3 separate regions of the Homo sapiens genome follow, and all the other regions are linked to region 1. Evidence: fine-mapped QTL for protein levels in blood plasma. A gene starts in region 1. Each other region holds a variant in brackets. All regions are shown on one strand. Distances are between the middles of the regions.

Region 1 (8,184 bases):
GCTCCGCCTCCCGGGTTCACACCATTCTCCTACCTCAACCTCCCGAGTAGCTGGGACTACAGACGCCCGCCACCACCCCCGGCTAATTTTTTGTATTTTTAGTAGAGACGGGGTTTCACCGTGTTGGCCAGGATGGTCTCGATCTCCTAACCTCGCGATCCGCCCACCTCGACCTCCCAAAGTGCTGGGATTACAGGCGTGAGCCACCGCACCCGGCCAGCCCTATTTCTTAAATGAAGTATCCTCAAATGTTTGGTCATTCTTGTCATAGTTCATGTTTGTTTTTGAGATTCCCCTTTTCCTTTCGCTGTGTGCTGGCTTTGCACTCAGCCTGCCCCCGCTGATGGCGGGAGAGATAAGCACCTGGTCTAGGAGGCTGTCTCAGCAGCTGCTGCTGCTCCAGGAGGTGTCTGTTTCTCTTAGTACTGTCAGTCACTTGGGGTACGTAAAATGGAATCTGGGGGTGTGTAGGGAGGGGCATAATAAGTTTCCCATCACAGTACAGTCATGAGTCACCAAATGACATTTTGGTCAATCACGTGGTACGCACTTGAGCACTTGTAAGGATGCTCCCATAAAATTATAATGGAGCTTCTCTATCCGGGTGTACCATTTTTTAAAATCTTTTCCACTGTATTTTTACTGTACCTTTCTGCCTTTTTGCTGTACCATTCCCTACAGTATTCAGTGGAGTCATGTGCCATACAGGTTCGTAGCCTAGGAGCAACAGGTTATACCATAAAACCTAGATGTGTAGTAGGCGGTACCACCTAGATGTGTGAGTACACTCTGTGATGTTCACACAGCGACAAAACTGCCTAATGATGCATTTCTTAGAATGTATCTTTGTTAAGTGAAGTATGACTGTCACTTGGTTGGAGAAGTTGACTGGTCAGTGGGTAGGTGACATAGATGAATATAGATGGGGTGACCTTTCCTGTCTCTTGTGACACAGCGCATCCCCGAGTTCCTTGTCCCCAGCCCCAGGAGCATTCTTTCTTTGGCGTTTAGTGCTACTTAAGTGCTAATTCTGTGCAATAATGAAAGCATCAGAGACAAGAGGGTTTAATCTGCCCAGAAGAGGTTCACTGGGGGCAGGTTTCTGAGGAGGTGAAGGCATGGATTCTTGAAGTGAGAGATCTAGGAAAAGAAAAATGGACTACATGTTATTATAATACGCCGAGAGGAGCAGGAGTTTTCATCTCTCCAAGAGATAGAATAAAAATGATTTCCAAGAATCTTAATCTTGGGGTGATCACATTTGTTTACGTTTGGAGTAAGCCTTGGGAACTGTGCTTGGAGAGAGGAAAGCTGTTCTGCAAGCCTGTGTCTGAAGTTCTGTCAATAGGTCACTCTGCAAGGAGGCCGGCTCTTCACTTACTGCAGAAATTAGCAGTGGCTGCCTGTAAATTCCTGGCTTAGGAAAGTTTGTCTCCGTTTTTCATCTGCTTGTACTCAGAGCAGATTGAGCTTACATGAGCTTGGGTAAGAAATAAGTGCCCTGTTCGTTGTGAATGCCCAGGCTGTTAAACGAAAATAGCACACAGGAAACAGTATTGCAAAGGTCAATTCTTCCAGAAAGGAAGGGACAACCAGCCATCTATCTGAAATTTTCGTGTGTAGATCCTGGCCTCTGACCCCACACCATTACCTAACAATCCAGTATTGAATGTGATGTCGGCTTCCATTTCCTGTGAATGAGGAGGCAGAATTTCCATCCAAAGACAGACCATCTGCCAGACGCAGGATTTGCTCTTTGCCTTAGCTGGCTGTTATTGATGTCTATGAAGGCTTTGTGGAGACAGTGTCAGCCCAGGCCGCTTGCTTCACAGAGATGGTGAATTACAGGGTTGAAATCCAGAGCTTGCAGCCAGGATTTTATTTTTCTTCATTTTTCCTCTGCAATGGCTGTTTTCTTTCGTTCAGTCAGAAACAAATCAAGGACAGTCTTGGGGCACATTTAGTTCTTTGGAGGAAGCTTTGCAACATCCAGGTTTAAAAGAAATTGGACTTTTACAGTCAACATTAACAATTGAATATGAAAGAGCGAAAATAAATTGATCATTAAGAGAAAATGTATACAAGGCCCCCAGCCCAGTGCACAGCACATGTTAGGTCCATTGTGAATAAACCATTTAACCAGTCAGAAGGATCCGAGAGGCCAGTGGCTGGGCTCATCTGCAAGCAAATCTGGCCCTTTGAGCTGGAAGAAAACAATTTTTAATTCTCTTGCGTCGATGTGTCTGAAGTTCTATGGGCCACAAGTATCAGGATCACCTAAGTACTTGCTAAAACTTGTCCTTCCCAGACCTTTCTAATGAGAATCTCCAGTGCAAACGCCAGAGGAATTGAATTCTTAACAGACATCCCAGGGATCAGGTGGGTTGGGAGACATTGCATTATTTCACCTGGTGCTCACAACCACCTGGGAGGTTTGTATTTTACCTTCACTTAACAGCTGCTAAAACTGAAGGTTGGAACTCAGCCTTAAAGAAACAGGCTTTATCTTTAACAGATCTGAGGTTGGGCTCTGACCTACTTCACTGTGTGGTGGTGGGAAAGCTACATCTCTATGCTGCAGTTTCCTCATCTGTATATTCAGGACTTAAAAAATGAAATAATGCAGGTGAAAGACGTTAGCACAATACTCCGATTATACGAGGTATGTAATGAATTATGAAGTAGTAAATAGTCTGTTTTCGTGCTGCTGATAAAGACATACACAAGACTGGGTAAAATTATACAGGAAAAACGTTTAATGGACCTACATTTCCACATGGCTAGGGCAGAAGACATGAAGGGGCAAGTCATGTCTTACATGGATGGTAGCAGGCAGAAAGTGAGAGAGAGCTTGTGGAGGGGAACTCCTCTTTTTAAAACCATCAGATCTTTTGAGACTTATCCACTACCATGAGAACAGCACAGGAAAGACCTGCCCCCATGATTCAATTACCTCCCACCAGGTCCCTCCCACAACACATGGGAATTCAAGATGAGATTTGGGTGGGGACACAGCCAAACCATATCAGTAAACAAGCCTAATCATTATTAACTAGGTTAAGTAACTAGCTCACACTGTCCAATAATGATGATTTATCAGTTTGATCAGAAAGAAAAGTCTTTGAAGGCAAGAGGCTTTCTCGTTTAGTTTCCCAAGTTCTAACATAGGGTTGCTCATGTAGATTGACTGAATGAATGAACAAAAGAAGTACACTGCAACGCTGGTTGGTAGTACGGTTAGATATGACACAGGGCTTGAACCAGGCCTGGTTTCCAGATCTGGTACTGAGATATGGCAGCATTGGGAAGGGGGCTGGAGAGCCTGTGCTTCCCACTAAGGTTTTTTAAAAAGAAAGTCCTGCACCTTGTTAGGAGGATCGACCTGGGTTTTGGGAACACTGCAAAACCTGCCGTGGGAGGGAACTCCTGAGAAAACTCCTCTGCAGTGGGAAGAGATGGTATGGAAGGCAGCTTCCTCAAATGCTGGATAACCGCCTCCTAGGAGTGGGTGCTCCGTCAGGAATCGGTGCGAGGTCGCAGGACCAGGATGGAATTTCTGCAGGTGGTCCTAGGTCTGAGCAGCACAGTAGAATCACCTGAGGCTTTGAAAACTATTGAGCTCCACGCATTGTGGGAAACTGAGTTAACTGGTGTCTGGGGCTGGCAATGTCTTTAACTCTTACTATTCTAATAAGTCCCCAAGGTTGGGAATCATGGTAACCCGCAGGGTGGGCATCAGCCATCCTCCATAGCTCCAGCCATTTCTGTCTGTGCGGGCCCCCTCGCTGCTGCTTTTCATGGTCTCCCTGAGGGCCGAGCGAGGCTGAAGAGGTGGGGTCAGCCCGGAACAAGGATGAGAAGGCAAGGCGCACCATTCTTTCATTGGTGTTTCTCCAAACACCCTGGGCTCCCCTGGCCTCACAGCCTGGAGAGTCTCATTCTGAAAGCGTAGGAGGGCGCCCGGGAATCTTTTTAACAAGCCAACCCAGGTGCTTCTTACAATCAGGAAAGTTTGGGGAACGTCACTGTACACCCTTTTCTGGGTCCAGGTCATGGAATGGAAACGTGAGCCAATCTATCAACGTAAAACCTAACACTGTTGATCAAAAGTAACGCCCAGGTGTCTTGTGCCTGCGAGTCCAAGCTTGTTTCTCGGGCGAGAGATGCCCCTTTGGGCGCTTAGGGCCGGGCGGGGTCGCGCGCCGGGCTGTGGGCCGCGGTGGAGACCTGACCCGCACTCCGAGGGTTCCCAGAGAGCCGGGGAGCGAGTAGCAGAGTCATCGTTTCCAGCTTCAGCCTGAAAAGCTGGACCGTGCCGCCGCATGTGCGCTTGGCAGCCGGGCGCCCCGGGCCCTGCGGCCACATCATCCTGGGGCGGGGACGTGTGCGCTCCGGGCGCCCGGACGCCACTGAGCCACGTCTGAGCCGCCCACCCTCGGGGGTGAGCGAGCCGCGGCTCGGGGCGGGACCCTGGCGGGGGGACCCGAGCGGTCTCTAGGACCCGCGGGACGCCGCCAACTGGCGGGGGTGCGGGGGAGACAATAATTTGTTCCGCGGTAATAAGAACGGTGACTGCTGGCCGTGGATCCATTTCACAGGCCTGCCTTCTCTCACTAACGCTCTTCCTAGTCCCCGGGCCAACTCGGACAGTTTGCTCATTTATTGCAACGGTCAAGGCTGGCTTGTGCCAGAACGGCGCGCGCGCGCGCACGCACGCACACACACGGGGGGAAACTTTTTTAAAAATGAAAGGCTAGAAGAGCTCAGCGGCGGCGCGGGCGCTGCGCGAGGGCTCCGGAGCTGACTCGCCGAGGCAGGAAATCCCTCCGGTCGCGACGCCCGGCCCCGGCTCGGCGCCCGCGTGGGATGGTGCAGCGCTCGCCGCCGGGCCCGAGAGCTGCTGCACTGAAGGCCGGCGACGATGGCAGCGCGCCCGCTGCCCGTGTCCCCCGCCCGCGCCCTCCTGCTCGCCCTGGCCGGTGCTCTGCTCGCGCCCTGCGAGGCCCGAGGTAAGTCGCCGAACTAGGGCGGCTCGCTGCCCGCCCCGCCGAGGGCACCGCACGCTGCGCCTGGGCGCGCCGAGGTCCAGGGCTGCCCCGAGGGGCGACGCGCCCCGGCGCATCTCCGGAGCCCCGGGGCTTGCGCTTCCAGCGCGGCGAGACCGACCCCCCCCCCCCAGGTGCCAATTCCTTGGGGAAGGGCGACACTTGGCCCGCAGCCCCACAGGAGCCAGTACCTGCCCCGGAGGGCACAGCCTCGGGACCGCTCCCCCGTCCTCACCCTCTTGGGTGACATTTGCAGATGTCTCTGTATCTTGACATTTACACGTGTCACTCGGGACGATGCGTGTCGGGTCCTCTTGCTGGCCCTATCCCGCAGTGAATATCCCCACCCCAGGCTCCGGGCCAGCCCTTCACCAGGTTTCCTTTCCAGCCCCGCCTCCCCCGCTAACACACTTAGGGGGGCGCGCAGCGGCCCCGCAGGTGAGGCAGCCCCCTCCTCCGCAGGTGTGCCTGCTGCTCTCCACAGCAGGCTCTATTTTCATAAACTGACTCTCTTACCTACTTCTTTAGTTTCCTCTCTGCCCCTCTTCCTGGCTTCCAGGTCACTCCCTAGCTGTCAGTCGCAGGCAAACTTTAGCGGAATTCTCCCTCCTTCCTCCACTCAGTTTCTCCGCCGTAAATAATCGCCCCCATCAACTTGGTGCACAGCGAGAACTTACTTAGTTTAACGTACTTAGTTTTACAGACTTAGGTTTTCCCGAGTTGTAGCCCCTTAAAATCGGGCACCTGTGGCTCCCGTTTGCACAGTGAGGACTCACCCAGCAGGTGCCTTTTTAAAAATCCGGCAACTTCCCCGGGTCTCCGCCGCCGCCGCCTTCTTTCTGCCGCCCGGGGCGCTGTCGGTCCACCGATGAACGACTTCCCTTGGCCGCAAGCTCTCAAGTTCTGTGATTCTATATAACAGGCATTTATTTTTCAACAACTGGCCTAAATCACGAACCGTTACCACTTTATGATACGTTTTATTTTGCGATTGCCACTGCTGCCCTCCGCCCCCACCGCGTCTACTGTAATGTGGCTAAAACCCAGTTCTTGTTAAAAGCCACACTGCGAAGACCAATTCGGGGATAAATGATTAAATACAAAGATTGCACAAAGCAATGAGAAAGTCAAGAAAGAATCCTGCTGAGGGTTTAAAGAACTCTACGACCTGTAGTGAATTGTGCTTTGAAAGACTTTTAAACAAATTGGTCCTTTTGAATGTTTATTAAGAAAGAACTTTTTAAAAAACGGAAAGTGTCTCAAAGTGTGCCTGACATGGTCTTTAACTTGGCACGTGCTTTGTACACATAAAGAGAAGTCTACTGAGCAGGGACAAATTTTTTTTTTGGAAGAAAATGTTTATTAAATCCAGCTAATAATGGGAAATTATTTCTTGTGTGTGTGGGCGGGGGAGGACTTTTACTATTTTATGAGTTCAGCTTTGGTAGAGAGAGTGTTTCCTTAAGACAGATATGACCCAAAATAGAAAACCAGGGAGGCCTAAGCACTTTGAATGGGTTACCTATTGTGATATATTCCAGGATTCACTGCTTGTTTACCCTTAGATTCTCAGTATCAAGTCTTCAATCAATCAGTGCCCCAAATCATACCATTGAGGCCGTATAAAACGCCAAACATATAATGAAACATTTCTTTGCATTGGCAAGAGAAAAGGAGGAATTACTACCTGTTGAGTCTGAGCATATTCTGAGTTTCTCCCTAGCCTTGTCTGTACCCTGAGCCCTGGCACAGTTGCCTACTTGGTACTTTCTGGGGCAACTCGGCCTAACAAGTCCAAAACAGAACCCTAGATCCCAGACTCTCTAGTTGCAAATCATTCCCTCCCCAGCCTTCCTGAACCCAGTAACAACCTCCTCTGCCTTCTCCACATGCCTTGTGCTGACATGCAGGAAGTCATCCCTGTGTCCCTCTTTTTACTCCGTAAGCCACCAACCTCCTAAGTATATTCCCACCTACCCACTTCCTTACATCCCGAAGTGTGCCTTTCCCAGTCCAGGCCACATTATAGGAAAAATCTCTTCTGCAGAAGCCTCTTATCCCTCTTACCCAACGGGCCTACTGGCTTTTCACCTTATCCCTGCATGGTATATTTTCCTCCACAATAGAGCCAAAGTTATTATTTTCAAACATGAGTTAGAGCATTCAAGTTTCCTGTCTAAAACTCCCCAGTGGCTCTCTAGCACCCTTAGGAAAGAAAATCCAAACCTCAGCATGACCTAATTCCTGTTTTCCTTTCTGATCTCCTTTCTTACCATTCTCCCTTTGCTCACCCTACTCCAGACACACTGCCTTCTCTTCTTTTCAACTACCCAATATAGTAGTGCCATCATTAAAAAAAAATTCAATGTTTGCACTAAGAAGACTTTGCAAATACTTTTCACTGTTTTGCCGTGCAGTGTTTTATGGCATTTCATCCCTCTTGTAACTTTTTGCTTTTCCTAGAGTTAATGATTGCCTTGTCTTGATTTTTGTTTGCTTTATTTTCTGTGCACCAAGCTGTGATATTGTGATATAATAAGAAATATGTCTCTGCCCCTGGTTCCTGGCACAGAACTCCTAAAATCCTTGGAATCTCTGGGGTATTAAGAGTGTCTTTTGTATGCTAATGAGCTTGTTAAGGCATGATTAGAGTTGGGACTTTTAGTGCCACCTCCCTTGCAACCTCCAGGGAGGGGAGACGGATTGAAGGTTGACTTGATCGCCAATGGTGTAATTAATCATGGCTGTGTAATTAGGCCTCCATAAACCCCCCAAAGGACAAGGTTTGTAGAATTTCCAGATTGCTGAGCAAATCAAAGTTCCTGGAGGGTGGCGTATCTAGAGAGGACACAGAAGCTCTGTATCCCTTTCCACATTCTCTGCCCTTTGCATCTCTTCCAACTGTTTTTCATCTGTGTCCCTAATTACATCCTTCATTAATATAATAAACTGGTAAATATAAGCAAGTGTTTTCTGTGGTTCTGTGAGCTTACCTAGCAAATTAACTGAACCTGAGAAGGGGGTTGTGGACCCCCAACTTATAGCTAGTTGGTCAGAAGTATAGGTGTGACAACCTACTACTTGTGATTGGCATCTGACATTGGGGGGAAGTCTTGTGGGACTGAGCCCTTAACCTGTG
Region 2 (8,184 bases), 130 kb after region 1:
TTTTTTAGGAGTGATCATCAGTTGGGTTGATTGCCCCGGTTTAGTTCTCAGAGAGTGACTTTATTCCCTCATGTGTGGAGAAGATGTACTTTCTCTCTCTAACCCATGCATGGATGATGAATGATAGCTCAAAGCGTTTGTAGTAGAGAACAAAGGAAATCAGGACATCAAATTCCCACCTAAGTATCAAATATTAGAATTGCATTTTCCCATAGTAAAATATTTTGCTGTGTCAGACCAGATCAGGTGCCTGAGACCTTTTGAGTGAACAAAGAAATGAGTGGCCTTTATTTTTGTTAGTAAGAAAGCATGTGATCGCTCTTTTCAGTAAACAAACTTTGCAAAAATATTGAAAAGAGACTTTTTTAAGCCACAAGGGCTATAGCTCATATTGTAAACGTATTATAACTTTGCAGAGCTTGACTTTCCTCTCAAAGCTCCTTGAAGCTTTTTTAAGAAGGGTTTTTCGTCTGTATCACATTTGCTTGGATATCTAAGAAGGTTATTTATTTCACTAGGTAAATTGAGAGCACTGAGCTGGGAATCTGATAATCCCAGGTGAAAGCTGCACTCTGCCGTGTGAATTTAGGAACTGAGCTGTGTAAGCCTCAGTTTGACGTCTGTTAGATACAGACCACCAAGATCCTACTGTTGTTTTAGGAATTAAATACAAAAATCCATAAAACCATTTACTACAGAGTCTAAGGCATAGGAAATATCCCACAAAGGTTAGCTGGTGCTGCTGTTATAAATTCAACCATTATTTTTGACCTCCTGGTATATAACAAGCATTGAACAACACACTGGGGACACGGTAGGGAACAGGGGGGAAACAGCCCTTGACCTCAAAGAGCTTGCAGGCTAGTGGAGCTGTGAGATGCCAAAGAGATGATCTTACAAATAATGGATTATGCTGTTACGTGCACTGGAAGTGCTTACGGGCATGGGCAATGAGGGAAAGAAAGGTGTCTTGGTGTGGCAGCCAGGGAAGGCCCACAGGCTAGAAGTACTGTCACCTGTGGGAGTCAGCCAGGTGCAGAGAGGAGGAAGAGTTTCAGGCCAAGCAAGCAGTGCAAGTAAAGGCCCAGGTGGGTGAGGAGCTTGTGGCATGGAGGCTCTGGCCGAATGCCAGGGCATGGGCTGAGAGAGTAATAAAAAAGGGAGACCAAGGGGCTACCAAAGACCAGACTAGATCTGGCCAGGTTTCAGACGCCACCCTGCACCAGGGGAAGCCACTGAAGGTTGGTAAGTAGGGCATGGATGGATTGAAATGGGTGTTTTAAGAATGGCTTCCTGAATGAAACAAAAAGTATCAAGAGCAGAGGTCGGAGGCCACTGGGAGACCATTACACTGGTGGGGCGTGTGGGGCACGGGTGGGGCGTGTGGGGCACGGAGGCAGTGGGGATGAGTGAGGTGGAGGAATTTAAGAAATAATTAGGGAAAAATCCTGAATCCAGAGACATTTAGATGCAGGTGAAAGTGATAGTCTAGAAAACTGTGAGATGACTCAGACTCTAATGAGGACAAAGACAGATTGCAAATAAAAGTGTTTTTGTAAGATATGAGAGTGCAGAAAGCAATCTGAATAAACTTATGCTTACATTATTTTAAATGTGTGCCTGAATTGGCCAATTAAATATTGTCAGTAGACAGTGGATTGTTCCCCACTGTGTCCCTAGCATATTATTCTATGCTTGATATATAGCAGGAGGTGAAAATTGAATATAAATATAGGGACACAGATATAAAATGGCCAAAAATCCTTTTGGTATCTTCTCATTGTGAAAATTGAGAGGCCAATTCTATTTGAGGTTGCCAAATAGAGTAGGCACCTATCTTACTAGTTATTTCCAGGCATGGTGCCTGTAAAGACACCACCGTTGTCCAGAAATCCATGACCTCTGGTTAGGAACTCACCTGCTTCTAAGTGCCTGGAGTCATTTGCGCTGCTGAGCCTTTCCTGAGCCCTTGGCAAGGCTGACTGGTTTTATAATTCTAACCTCTGCTTTTATATATTCTTATCTTTATCTTTGTTCTTACCTCTATAAAATGAGGATGGTTATATTTCCTTGCCCATCTCCACGGTTGATGGATGCAAGTTATTTCATGAAGCGATTGTAGTATTTTATCTGCGATGTAAATTTTTATGCGATTGTGTGACAGGTCATATTTCCCCATTTTCCTTTATAGTTGTGGATAGAGTTTTATTTAAAGAGTCAATAAAATGTTTTTCTTTTAAATACAGCGTAGAAATGCATGACCACTTTCGTGCACCTGAGAAAGTTGGTGAAAAGAATAGATTATCACATGCTTGAGAAGTTCCTCTTTGTTCTAAGTTGTATTGAGTCAGATCGAGTTCCTTTGCTAAACTCAGTGCAATTCCTGCATTCTCTCAGCAGCGAAGAGGCCATCTCAATACAAATGGAACATTTTGATCGCAGAACAGAAGACCATGTGCACGTTCCAGGGCTACTTAGGTGTTTTGGTGAGGATTGGGCATACCTGGTGTCTGGGCTTTAGGACATCACTGCCTGACATCATTCCTTCCCGGTACTGTCTTTGGAGGGTAACTGTGTGTGTCATTGTGTTTTGCAGAGCACATGTAGGGTTAGGTGGTTGCTGTCAAGTGAAAGGGAATCCAGGCTGGCAGTACACATACAGGTGGTGTCAGTGTTCAGGGAGGAAGGGGCTGAGAGTGGGCACTGCAGGCCTTATGCAGGATGCAGAAGTGGACTGGGGAGCCCCCAGGTGGCCAGTGGGTGGGCTACTGCTAAGAGTGGATGGTCAAATGCTCTGCAAAATATGAAAAGCTGCAAAACCACAGAAGTCCCTCCATCATCATCATCATCATCATCATTATTATTATTATTCCCATCCAAAGGTGCAGGAACAGTATTTCTTAGGAATATATATGCAATATAGTACTTAAAGAACCAGCCTTTGCAATGTTGGTGTTAATATAAAAGAGATTTCTGGATAAACCTACTATCTCCCCATCCTCTAGGGCTCCTATCTCATCTGTCTCCATTCTTTTGAAGCCCTCCAGAGTGATTCAGGGAAAATTTTCTCCAGTTCCTCTGCTTTTTAGTTGGTATAGTCTCTGCTTCTCTGCACTGGGCTATTGTCCAGATAAATGAAGTAGACTCCTGGATTTGTAGACTTTCTAAGTGGAAGTAGATGGAAGTGAGGATGTCTGCTGGAAGGTAAGCTCCTGAAGGCCCCAGGGCTGAATCCCCACCTCCCAGACCAGAGTCTGACACACAGCGACGGCTCAAGGTAGTAGAACCTCTATCAATGCAGAGGGAATGAAGGGACCTCAGAGATCACTGTGGCCACGTCACCCATTTTACAGATGGAGACTGGAAGAGCAGGGAGGTTTAGACACTTGCCCAAGATCCCGTAGTTGTTGGTAGAGTTAGAAACTAAAACAAAGGGTCCAGGTCATAAACCCAGAGTTGTTTCCTAATACATTGGCCTTCTACTGTTACAGAGCCATAGGACTCTGCATTCATGTTTACCCATTCATTCACAAACTAAGCGTTCATTCATACAATGTGATTGGTAGATCTTAGACCAATGGCTTTCGTTCTGCTTGGACATTAGAATCACCTGGAGCAAAAACCAAAGTTGCCAGGTAGGGGGGTGATTTGATTTACTTTTACCTGGACATAAGTATTTTTCTTAAGTGTCCCAGGTGATCTGCAGAAGCAACAGGGTTGAGCACCACCGTGGCAGACTTGGCTGGTCCTAACT[A/G]CCAGCCGTGGTGGGCGAGTGAAGATATTCCTTTGGCTGGGTGGTAAGTGCCCTGACGAGATGCCCATGGGCACCCACCTCCTTCCCTGCACCGTTCCTGATGCCGAAGGCCCTTGGACAGCCTGCACTAGCTGGATCTGGCTCCGGTAGAGGCGAGGGAAGGATAACACCATAATGACCAGGCGTGTGCCTCGGCTGTCTGCTGCCTCTGTGCAGACATCTCTGAGACTAGCTGCAATGGGGCCAGTTAGCTTTGCCATCCCCCCTTCAGAGTATCATTCAGTTGTCCTGGAGACAACCCTCATGGAGCCAGGTGCTTTGTTGGGGATTCAAAGAAAGGTAAGACGAAGTCCCCATCAGGAGGGACCCTCCGTGGGCAGGAGGAAGTGTGTTTTGATATTAGTATAAAGCGAGGTTGTACTATTTTGTTTAATGCTAGGATTTAAAAATCAGTTTTCCTGGAAACCTTTGCTGTTTGCTTTTTACAAAATTTAATAGTATGGCCATGATGACATCATCAATGTTTAAACTGCCTTATTGGACCCTCCTAGTCCTCCTGCCATGAAGGGGCTGCGTTCTAAGGGTGAGTGTGTGAGGTGGAGCCGTGGGGAGGAAGCTGGGACTGAATGCGAACGAGAGCTGGACTCGGGACACCATCTGAGATTGCCACACACCTGAGGCTTCTTTTTGAGGTACAAAAGGAGCAGTTTCTTACTTCCCAAAGTAAGTCAAAACCTGAGTCTGTTCAGTTCTCAGGCCTCACAAACTTTCATTGAGTGTAGCAAAAGGAAGACAGGAAGAAACCTGTACTTATCACCACCTGACATCAGCCTGAGTGCCAGCTGGCCGGCGACACCACTGGGAGCTGGGACTGCTAGTGTGGAACCCACAGAGGGTGGCATTGCAGGACAAGTCAGCAGATGGGCTCACGACAGGAATGCCCCAAAGCTGTCCAAGCTGACCCCACTTCGGGTGCAGGAAAGCCGTGCTCCGAGGGTGGCCCCTGTCCAAATGCCACCGGGGGCTGGTGACCGGGGCGAACTATGGCCAGAACATGAGACTTCTGTGGTTTGTAAAGGGGGACTGATGTCAGGGAAGAGAGATGGTGCCCTAATTGTCTTAATTATGGTTTATGTCAAGAGAGATGACGTTTTAATGGTTCTAATGACAGTTCCAGGCTGTCAGTACACTCTTAAGTCCTATTGTCTTGAAGCAATTTCTGAACAGGTGAAGAAACCCCTGCAAAACAGAGGGGCCTCCCCAGCGATGGCGACTGTTGCACAGTTCAGAGGAGGCCTGGGAGCATGTGAGCAGAGCGGTCAGTGGCCTTTGTCCTCACTACGGTGGTGGCTCCATGGATGCTCTGGATCCTAGGGAAGGAAGGAAGGAAGAACAGCAGTTCAGGAGGGCCAAGGAAAGGGCCTCCCGCCTGGACCGGGTGTGGAATTGACGCTGAGTAACACACCTGTGCAGGTGGACTCTGTGAGCAAGGCAAGAGGAGATGAGGAGAGCATCCGCAGGGGAAGAGGCCAAGACTGCATCCTGAGAAGGAAGTGTTGTCAGTTGCTCTTGCTGGGGTGAAGCTGACCAGACCGCAGGTTCTTCCTGGAGCCAGTGACAATGCCGACAGCTGACACAGAGGGAGCACATGACTTGCGCTTGGCATTTTCACCTGCATTATCTTGTTTATTCCTCACATCAACCCTATAAGGTATGTGCCATTACTGTCCTTGTCTTCCAGCCAAGGAAACTGAGGCACAGCCCTATCAAATGACTCCCACCAGGTCACGCAGCTGATAGGTGCCAGAGCTGGCTGCAGACCCAGGGAGGCTGCCTGCAGACCCCAAGCTACAAACCTGTTCTAATGGCTGAGAGCTGAACACACCTCCGGAGCCTCCCAAGGGAAAGGAAGGGATGAGCTGGGAAGATGGACAGTGCTGCCCAGGAGGGGACTGGGGAAGGGTAGCAGAGGGGCCATAGGACCTTGGAGGATGGCCACTGAATGGCTCTGACTGAAGATAGCACTGGGCTGGGTGAGCCGGCAGAGACATAGCGCCCTGGAAGTCTGGCCTTCAGCATCCTGTGCTGTAATTGCTCAACTCCAGGTACAGGATGGGGCATGGCAGGCCTGCCAGTGAAGAGAAACGGGGAGGGCTTAGGGCTCACCTCACTCATCCTTGAGGCTTCTCTCATGGAGCCTGTGCCAGCTCAGGCCAGGCAAGAACCGCATCTCATTCCCTGCTTATCCCAGGCTCTGCCCTGGTCCCTACAAGCCCTCTGGGAGGAAGAGTGGGACAGTATGAGGAGGAGAGCAGAAGCCCTCCCCCCACCCAACCCACAAAGATCTGCTCAAGCAAAGTGAGTCCAGGAGCTGTCAGAGGAGCAGGGTTTTCTCTGGGGGGTGGGTGTTCCCCCTCTTAGCCCAAGCTCTGCCACACGAGAAGCAGATGTCTTGTTCTAATCTTCAAGTGGGATGATTCGTGGACACTGCCATTAGCTAGTTTTCTTAACATGAAGAGACAGCTGCTTAGTGGCTATTTCTATGTGGGCTGAGCTCATTCAGTAGAGCAGCTTTCCCCTCTGGAGAACAAGAGAATGATAAGCGAGCATAAATCATGCTAAAAGGAACGACTCCTCATCATGAGTCATTAGGACACATGCCACATTGGCGAGCAGATGAAAAACCTTTGATGAAGACCAGTTGTAAAAGCACAAGCTAATGCTGGAGAAATGCATCATGGTGACTTGAAAGTGTAATATATGCATGCTCACGCTTTCGGTCTTAAAAAAAAAAATTGCAGTAAATGTCAAGAGTGGTCAGAAACCATTTCCTGTGCTGGACCCTGCAGGGAGAGGTTCAGGGAAGGGTGGGTTTGGAAGAATACTTCAAATCAGTGAGTGCTAAGCATATTTTGGCACAGTCCTTCTGGAATGGCATCAGGAATGTGAACCACAGTCCTAAACAGGTATGTCCTGTTATGTGACAGTAGCTATAATAGAACGTCACTTCAGGGTTTCGAGAGCACATATCAGAGCATGGTTGAAAAATCATCCAGAGAAATTCCAAAGAAGACCATGAAGTTGCAAGTGCCACCTTTGTCCCTTTCTACAAGGAGCAGGAGGCAGTATGCCAGGGCTAAGGCATCAGCTCTGCACCCAGGCAACCTGCTCAGTGTCCCTGTTCTACCACTTCATAGCTGTGTGACTGTGGTGGTTAATTTAGGTGTCAACTTGACTGGGTTAACAGACACCGAGAAAGCGGGTAAAGCATTATGTATGGATGTATCCATGAGGAGGGTGTTTCTGGAAGAGATCAGCATTTGAATTGGTGAACTGAGTAAGAAAGATCCCCCGTAACCCAATGTGGGTGGGCACCATCCAGTCAGTTGAGGGCCTGGATAGAACAAAAATAGAGGAAAAGTGAATTTGCCCACTTTCTCTTCTGGAGCTGGGACACTCATCTTCTCCTGCCCTTGGTTGAACATCAGAACTCCAGGTCTCCAGCCTTTAGACTCTGGCCTCCCAGGTCCTCAGACCTTTGGCCTTAGACAGAGTTACATCATCAGCTCCCTTGGTGTTCGGGCCTTTGAACTTGGACTGAGATATGCCACCAACTTCCCCAGTTTTCCAGCTTGCAGACAGCGTATCATGGGCCTTCTTATTCTTCATAACTGCATGAGCCAATTCCCATAATTAATCCTCTCCCATCCATCCATCCATCCCATCCATTCCATCCATCTATCTAATCCATTCTCCAATACATCCATCCCATCCATCAGTCCAATCCATCCATCTAATCCATCCATCCATCTAATCCATCCATCTCATCCATCCCATCCATTGAGTCCATCCATCATCCATCCATCCCATCCATCCACCCATCCATCCTGTCCATCCATCCATCCATCCCATCCATCCATCCAATCCATCCCATCCATCTAATCCATTCATCCCATCCATCATCCATCTCATCCATCCATCCAATCTATCCATCCCACCCAATCCATCCATCCATTTATCCATCCCATCCATCCATCAATCCTGTTCATCCAACCATCTATCCATTCTATCCATCCCATCATCCCATCCATCCATCCTATCCATCCCATCCATCCATCCTATCCATCCCATCCATCCATTGCATCCATCCCATCCATCCATCTGTCCTATCCATCCCACCCATTCATCCATCTATCCTATCCATCCCATCAATTCATGTATCCATCCCATCCATCCATCCAATCCATTCATCCCATCATCCCATCCATCCATCCAATCTATCCATCATATCCATCCATCCCATCCTATCCATCCATCCTATCCATCCATCCCATCCATCCTCTCCATCCCATCCATCCATCCTTCCTATCCATCCCATCCATCCCATCATCCCATCCATTCATCTATCCATGCATCCATCCATCCTATCC
Region 3 (8,184 bases), 350 kb after region 1:
TGTGTGGTGCATTTTATGCCCATGATGTCATCCCCTCCTTATACAACTCTGAAGAAGGTGGTATGATTCTTTTCTCACATACCTAGGACCTGAGGCTCAGGGAAGTTAAGTAATTTGCCTAATGTGATCTCGCTAAGATTTACACACACACAGGTCTGCCTGTCCCCCAAGAAGCTCTTAGTAGCAGCTGTGCTTGAACTCGTGGCCATTTCTCCTCGGATGACCTTTAGAAATGGTTTACTGGTGCGGTGCTGTTTTCTCTGAGTTCTTATTGGGCAATTCAGGGGCAAGTCTAAATGATGCCTCTTTTCGAGGGAAAGAAGCAAGGCAGGAAGCTGCAGAGTCCAACAGGGAGCGCGGCCAGGGCCAGGAGCCCGTGGGATCGCAGGAGCATGCGTCTACTGCCTCACTGACACTCATCTGAGCCCTCCCATGACATGGAGACCGTGACCAGTGCTGCTGCAGAGGAGGTCACGCGTCCCCAAGGCCTCCTGTGACTGGCAGCATTGACTCTGTGGCTTTGCCATCGTTTCCATGACAACAGACACAACACAGTTCTCGGGGCTCAGGAGGGGAAGTCCAGCCTACCAGGCACGTCTGCAGAAACAGTGCAAGGAAGGGCAGCGACTTCCTGGTTGAGCTTCTGCTAAAACATGGACATGCTTCAGTGCTGCTCCTGAGAGAGTAGCAGGTTACCACTCTGGCAGGCCCCAGCCCTGCAGCAAGGAGGAAGAGGACTCAAAAGTCTGGCCTTTCACTGAGCCTCCACAGCAGTGGGGGAGAAGCAAGGGTTGGGCCCAGTGTCCCCTTTCCCCAGTGACACCTCAGCCTTGGCAGCCCTGATGACTGGTCTCTGGCTGCAACTTAATGCTCTGATATGGCTTTTAGCATTTATTATATGAAAATAGCAGGGTTTTAGTTTTTAATTTATCAGAGACCCTGCCACCCATTCCATCTCCATCCAAGCAAACTGAATGGCAATGAAACAAACTGGAGAAGAAGGTAGGAGAAAGGGCGGTGAACTCTGGCTCTTTGCTGTGGACATGCGTGACCAGCAGTACTCAGGTTTGAGGGTTTGCAGAAAGCCAGGGAACCCACAGAGTCACCAACCCTTCATTTAACAAGTAAGAATGTTAAAAAGTGAAAACAATGTAAGAGCCTAACTCCATCCCCCGTGGCCATTACTGCATAAAATAGAGTGCATTTGAAATACCGCTGCCTCCACCCTGTTCATACATATATAAAATCAAGGCAGGCCATGAGCAAGCATGGCTCACTGCTCCCTGGCCTGGCCATGGCTCAGGGGCTCATTAAACAAGTACTTGTGTGTCTGCCACACACCAGCCACTCTCCTGGGTCCTGGAGAGACATTAAGCAAGAATGACATGGCATAAGTGAGGGGTACGACTGCAGGGAGAGAGGGCATCATGGGAGGGGAGCAACCCCCACAGAGCGGCAGGGGGTTGTCAGGAAGGCTCCTGGGGACCCTGCATCTGTTGAGGTCTGAAGGGGGCGAGGGAAACATGCATTCTGAAGCCGAGATAGCTGGCTGTGCGAAGATCTAGAGGAGTGTGGACTGGCCTGGGCTCAGATTCTAGAGTGCGGACTGGGCCAACAGGAGGGGACACAGGACACGGTGCTCGTGCTGGTCCTGGGGAAGAGGGAAATGGAGTCAGTCACTGCCCGGGCCTCTGGCTTGAGCAACCCTGGGGAGTTCAGCAGGTTCAGTGTGGGGGCCCTGTAAATGTTCAGTTTCATAGATTGATGTATTGAAGATTTATGGATTCACTTTATGGAACTAGAAATTATAGTTCAAGATTTTTGCTGTTCACTTTTTAAATTAACTTTAATTAACTTTGTTATGAGACACCAGAACTCTAGCTAGAGCCCCCTGTGATCACTACTAAGGGTCTGAAAAGAGTGACATTTTGCCCAGGAAACCAGAAGCAATGCTTTTCCAGTAACACCAACAAGTAAGTCAAGACTGTCATCTGTTGGCTGTCTTGCTTAGGCTAAGACACATCCCTGATAGGCCTTGTTAGTGGGGGATGGGGTCCAGAAACCAAGAAGGTGTGAAAGACATTCTTTCCCTGGAGTAGGAGCTGCTGCTGCAGTGATCCACAGCCAGCTGAGGGTCCAGGTGGGAGGCAGGGCCGAGGAGAGCCCAGGTAACTGCATCACGGCGATCACCAGCAGCCGGAAAGGACTGTTGCACACTTACCTGATGTGAAGTACACCCTGATCCTTGCTGATGGGAAGACAAATGAATCAAGATCCCTGTCCTCTAAAAATTCACTGTCCAGTTGAAATCACAGGTAGACCTCCTCTAAGTCTGAGCATTTAGAGTCCTTCCCAGACAGCCGCTGACCATAGCTACTGTAAGAAACCAACCTGATGGTTTGATTTTTTTCCTTCCTTTCCCTACCCTTGAGGAGGCTCTTAACTGTATTAAACAAAATGGCAGCAGGTCATAGAAAAGAAGATGTTTTCATAGAGAAAATAGCTTCCTCCCAGGAAAAGGGTTTCCCCCACAAAGGCTGTGTTTTTAAGTCCCCAACATAACAAAGCAAAACCCATGGGTGTTTCATTTAAATGAGTTTTCTTTCTCTTTTTTCACTATCTACTTTGAGATGTCCAGCAAGAAAGCAATTCATTTTTTAAAAACACGAAAAGAGATAAAGCAGAACCCAACTACAGAATGAGTAAAGAAAAGCACTTTGGAATGGCAAATCTGTGCTGGGGACTGGAAACATTTGAGCCTGGGGATGGCTGTGATTCCAGTGAGGCTTCAGTGATGGCTCCCTGCTACCTTCTGTGGCTACCATGGTCCACTGTGCCGTTGTCACGCCTCAGGGAACCTGCGTGGTCCAGACCATCACCCCACCTACCCGACTATATATTCCTGTTTAGCAAGTTCTAGAGTTGTCAGAAATGAATGATGGTAACATAGATTGAACCTCAAACATGGCATCTGAAGTAAGACAGTTTATTAGTACATCACTCACGGGTGTACTCTCTTCATTTCTGTTGCTTCAGAGTTCACTTTGCCATAAACGTCACAACTTGATACCTCCCATATTTCATTGTAACTGCCTCCTTCTGTGAGCCCCATGTGTTTTGTTTCAGATAACCAAGGTTTAACCATAGGAATTCTGGTGACCATCCTGTGTCTTCTTGCTGCCGGATTTGTGGTTTATCTCAAAAGGAAGACCTTGATACGACTGCTGTTTACAAATAAGAAGACCACCATTGAAAAACTAAGGTACCCTGGGTTTAGCTTGTCATCTGTTCTAGAAATGGTGGCTCAGAGGCTGGGTGCGGTGGCTCAAGCCTGTAATCCCAGCACTTTGGGAGGCTGAGGCGGGCGGATCACGAGGTCAGGAGATCGAGACCACGGTGAAACCCCGTCTCTACTAAAAATACAAAATATCAGCCGGGCGCGGTGGTGGGTGCCTGTAGTCCCATCTACTCGGGAGGCTGAGGCATGAGAATGGCGTGAACCCGGGAGGCGGAGCTTGCAGTGAGTTGCGATCACTCCACTGCACTCCAGCCTGGGCGAGAGAGCAAGACTCCATCTCAAAAAAAAAAAAAAAAAAAAAAAAAGAAATGGTGTCTCAGAAAATGTACAGCAAACTGCTTCTCACTTCATTTTTTTAGCAAAGGTCAGATTTTCTGGATCATAAACCTGGGACTTGGTTCTTTTTTGGGGGGTTTCTTGTTTTAAATTTCTGCCAGATCAGCTGCCTCCTTTACTTCCCTTCAAACAACAATGTGCTGCTTATTACATAAGCTAGCAGGGTGTCAGGAAATTCCACTGATGTGTTTTCTCCCACCCTTATATTAGTAATTTTTATACAACATGGAGACATTGAAATATTTTCATCAGATGGGGTAGCTTTTGATCCAAATATATTCAAAGACATTATCGCTGAAATGCCAGCTTCATACAAATCATCTTCCAGGTGTCACTACACTGCATTTCTATGGAGCGTGAGAACTAATTTGACAAAATAGAGGTTTTGAGGGAAAAACCAGTATTTATTTTTTAATCTCCTAAGAGTGTTATTAGGTAATTTTTCCTTTGCATGTTTAGCACACTGAGTTAAGTAAACTGTCTTTTGAGTGCCACTATGAGCAAAGTGTAAAAAGTCAAGTCAGTGAGAAGGGGAAACACGCTTGGTCAGCAGGTA[TG/G]GGATTCTGTTGCAGGTGTGTGCGCCCTTCCCGGCCACCCCGTGGCTTCCAACCCTGTCAGGCTCACCTCGGCCACCTTGGAAAAGGCCTGATGAGGAAGCCGCCAGATTCCTACCCACCGAAGGTGAGTCTTGAGTAGATGTGAGTGCTCAGGGCACACATGCAGACATGAGGTTTTCAATACGAGACTGAATAAGAATGGGATCCTAGAGGCGCTGCCTGTGAAATGCTGAGTCAGCCTCACTAGGTCAGCAGGCTCTGAGGGAGGGTCTCTGTGATCTGGGGCCAGAGGGAGGCCCCACGGTGCCCCCATGGAAGCCCACCTAGATCCTGTTGGCGCACTCAGTGCCCCCTGCATGATATGGTGCAGCATAGTGTGAGCTGTGATCCCTTCAGTCACCCAGACCAGCCACATTTCTGGGGCCCCACTGGGTCTGCAGCCCGAGCTGGCTCCTGACACCAGCCCCCAATGCCAGCCCCACCATGGTTTCCAAATGCCACCACCTGGCTTTAGGTGAGCTGCTTTAGCCCACTGTTACTCTTAAAATATTTTTCAAAAGTTACATGGAGCTCTCAGAATTGACCATTTTGCTCCAGCCCTGAGCTGAGGAAGCCCTGTCCACCCTGTGGTTTCAGAGAACTGGATCCTTAACCCAGAGTACCTCACGGCTCCCTGCTGTCTCTTAACCCTCTTGCTACCCTGGTGAATTACAGCTAGAGTTCATTCTAATAGTTCTTCCCCACCGAGTTTTTCTGATGTACCCACAAGAATTCTTGAATATTGAACTTAGTCAACAAGAGTCCAAATTATAACAGTGAACAAGATTGGTGTCAAAAAAAATAAGTGATTGAAAAATCATTGCTGCATATGCAGTAGGCAATAAACTGTTTTAACTCCCTTGATCCAAAAAACGCAAAGGGTGGGGCTCCAAGGAGGAGGCTGCCATTCCCAATAAGCTTTACCCCTGCTCGTCCCCAAAGGTGGAACCATAAGCGAGAACGGCTTTGTGTGGTAGCCAAAAGCACATCTTCATTTTCGTAAAAAAGAAAAATGCAGCTCTATTAAAAAAAAAAAAAAAGCACAGCCTTATTTTTGAGAGCCCCAAACTAGAAACAATCCAAATATCCATCAACCAGTAAAAGGATAAACAATGGTATATTTGCACAATGGAATGAACCATTGATGTATACAACATTGAGGATGAATCTCTAGATAATTATTCTGAGTAAAAGAAGAAAAGCCAGAGTATATACTCTGTGATCCCACTTATATACAATTCTGACAAATGCAAACTGATAGTGACAGAAAGCAGACTGATGATTGGAGGGAGAGGGAAGGGAGAAGCATGACAAGAAAACTCTTTGGGGTGATGGATGCATTCATTTGTCCACTTGTTTGTTGTGAGGGTTTCATGGGTGTAAACACGTCAAAAAATGACCAAGTTGTATACTTTATGTCAACTATACCTCAATTAAGCTGTTTTTAGAAAGAGAGGAAGGAAGGGGTAGAAGCCTGAGGTATAAGGGTCCCTGCAGCACCTGTTCTAAGAACAAGGGTTACCATATGGGAGAACGTCTCCAACTCCAAGCCCCAACCTCAGCCCTGGCTTCCTGAAGCCGCAACTCTCCTTTCCCCAGTGGTTTTCTCAGTTCTCATTGAGCCTTGAACACATTAAGCTGTATCTTATTTTCACATCTCTTTTGTAACTTCCCTAAGATCTCGGTCCGTGTCTTTCTTTATACTTGGTACTTTTTCAAGTGCTTTGCACCTATTTGTTAAACAGTTTTTTAAAATCTAAACAAAAATCGATCCTTCTATTCCAGATTTGGTGGGGTGGAGGCAGGTGATGCTTCTGTTTGAATTTTGAAGTTTAAATAAATACAAAAATAATTCCCCTCTTGTGTACATCCTTGATTTCTTTCCTTTACCCCACCTTGGCCTTCAGCTATAACAGATGAGTTAGCACTGCTTTTTCCTTAAGGAGTTACTGATATTTTTGAAACCCGCTATAGCATGGCTTTTTACTTTGACTGTACAGGACAATCCCAGGAGATTGCTGCAGTGTCAGAATGTTGACATCAGCAGACCCCTCAACGGCCTGAATGTCCCTCAGCCCCAGTCAACTCAGCGAGTGCTTCCTCCCCTCCACCGGGCTCCACGTGCACCTAGCGTCCCTGCCAGACCCCTGCCAGCCAAGCCTGCACTTAGGCAGGCCCAGGTATGCTTTCAGTACTAATATGATAGGATGTAGTTCAAATCCAGATTCTGCTACTTGTTAATGTGTGAGCTTAGATAAGTTGCTTAACTTCTCGGTGCCTCTGTAAAATGGAGATAATTCAGCTACTCAGATGGTTAAATGAGATAATCCACATAAAGCAGTTAGTTTGGTGCCTGGAGTATAATAATAAGAGTGTCATATATTTTAATTTACTAGTTATAATTTTTTAAGTATTTGAATAGTTAGACCACTCATGCAACTAAACGATGACACTATTGAGAATAGCAGAGGGACTAGTAATAATTAGGCCTGTACAGTAAAATAGAGACAGGCAATCTAAGACAGATGGTCACCCTAAGAAGCATCAGTTATACTCTCTCATCATTTTATTTCAAAATTATTTACAAGAACTATACCACCTATATACAGAGTGTCTCCGTACCAAACTTAGCACTGTATTGTTTATGTATATCATCTCATTTTTATGCTGTTTTTGGAAGTAACCATTTCTGTTTGCTGCAATAACGAATGATATTTCACAATAGAAAACTTGAAGGGAGGAGAAAACAAGCAAATAAGTAGGAGATAATCACTGGTAATTTTTCACTGCTATTAATATTTTTTGTTTATAATTGTGTATTTTAACATAATTTATTTGTACACAGTTTTATATGCTGCTTTGTTTTGCCTTAAAAATTAGTCCCATTTACAATGGCATTAAAAATCCTATTTAATAATAACACTATACTTGAATATAAATGTTTAAGTACTTGCAAATTATTGGGCATGTATTGATGTATCATTTTTTGCTGTTAGAAAGTTCTAGAGAGGTAAATCTTGGGACCTCTTTATTCCCCTAGGAGAGATTCTTAAAAGTAAAATATTGGGTTGAAAGATTGTATGACCATTTTAAGCCTCATAATATAAAAATATTTTTTCAGAACTCATATACATTTGCGTTCCCACATTGTTATTGTCTTTCTCACCATGACTTTGCTAACACTAAATTTTAACTTTTACCAGTTTGATAAATACAACAAAATATCTCAATTTGTTGCTGTCTAGTAGTTCTGTCAGTTACCAAGAGGAGATGTTGGACTTTTCCACTATAATTGTGTCTCCTTTGAGTTCATCAGTTTTTGCTTCATGTATTTTGAAGCTCTGTTGTTTGCGATACACACAATTAGGATTGTTGTGTCATCTTAGTAAAGTGACCCTTTTATCATTATGTCATGTCTCTGTTTAGCTCTGGTAATCTTTGTTCTAAAATCTACTTTATCTGATATTATTATATCCACTCCAGTTTTATTTTGATTAGTATTAGTGTTGTCTTTTTGCAATCATGAATGATATTTCACAATAGGAAACATCATTCATGATTGCAGCAAACAGAAATGGTTACTTCTAAAAACAGGATAAAAAGCAAAGTATGAATTTTTCCATCCTTTTAACATACCTATGGAATTACATTTGAAAAGCGTTTCTTGTAGACAGCATATAGATTTTTTCATCCATTTAGCCAGTCACTATATTTTAATAGGTGTGTTTAGAACATTCATATTTAATGCAATTGTTGATATGTTTGGATTTAAGTCTACCATGTTAATATTATTCTGTTTGTTCTCTCTGGTTTTTGTTTCATTGTGCTTTTTCTGTGTTCCTGTAGATTAGTATTCCATATTGATTTATCTGCATTTATGTTTTTGAGTATATATCTTTGTATTTTTTTTGTATGATTACACTAGGGCAGTTTCTCAACCTCAGCATTTTGACA

Alleles and levels. Alleles are on the strand shown, and positions count from the first base shown. The strength of an association depends on the size of the effect and on how common the allele is.
For the plasma level of the protein whose gene starts at base 4,590 in region 1, allele G in region 2 goes with a higher level than allele A (moderate association).
For the plasma level of the protein whose gene starts at base 4,590 in region 1, TG is the high allele of the variant in region 3 and G is the other (weak association).

What was found. PIP is the chance, under the fine-mapping model, that this variant and not a neighbour inherited with it causes the effect. The UK Biobank Pharma Proteomics Project read protein levels with antibody pairs (Olink). The fine-mapping took linkage between variants from a reference panel, not from the people measured, so its PIPs are less certain.
Region 2: its variant is fine-mapped to the plasma level of the ADAM12 protein (UK Biobank, PIP above 0.99).
Region 3: its variant is fine-mapped to the plasma level of the ADAM12 protein (UK Biobank, PIP above 0.99).

What each region holds. Positions count from the first base shown.
Region 1 is chr10:126,384,883-126,393,066 of GRCh38, reverse strand. It overlaps ADAM12 (ADAM metallopeptidase domain 12), which reads left to right and starts at 4,590. Exons shown (of 23, transcript NM_001288973.2): 1 at 4,590-5,009. The coding sequence starts at 4,922.
Region 2 is chr10:126,251,595-126,259,778 of GRCh38, reverse strand. All of the region lies in intron 3 of ADAM12 (ADAM metallopeptidase domain 12), which reads left to right. Among named protein-coding and RNA genes, the nearest start is that of ADAM12, 130 kb to the left of the region's middle. The variant A/G (reference allele first, on the strand shown) is at 3,755.
Region 3 is chr10:126,034,372-126,042,555 of GRCh38, reverse strand. It overlaps ADAM12 (ADAM metallopeptidase domain 12), which reads left to right. Exons shown (of 23, transcript NM_001288973.2): 19 at 3,127-3,262; 20 at 4,207-4,315; 21 at 6,231-6,410. Among named protein-coding and RNA genes, the nearest start is that of FANK1-AS1, 65 kb to the right of the region's middle. The variant TG/G (reference allele first, on the strand shown) is at 4,191.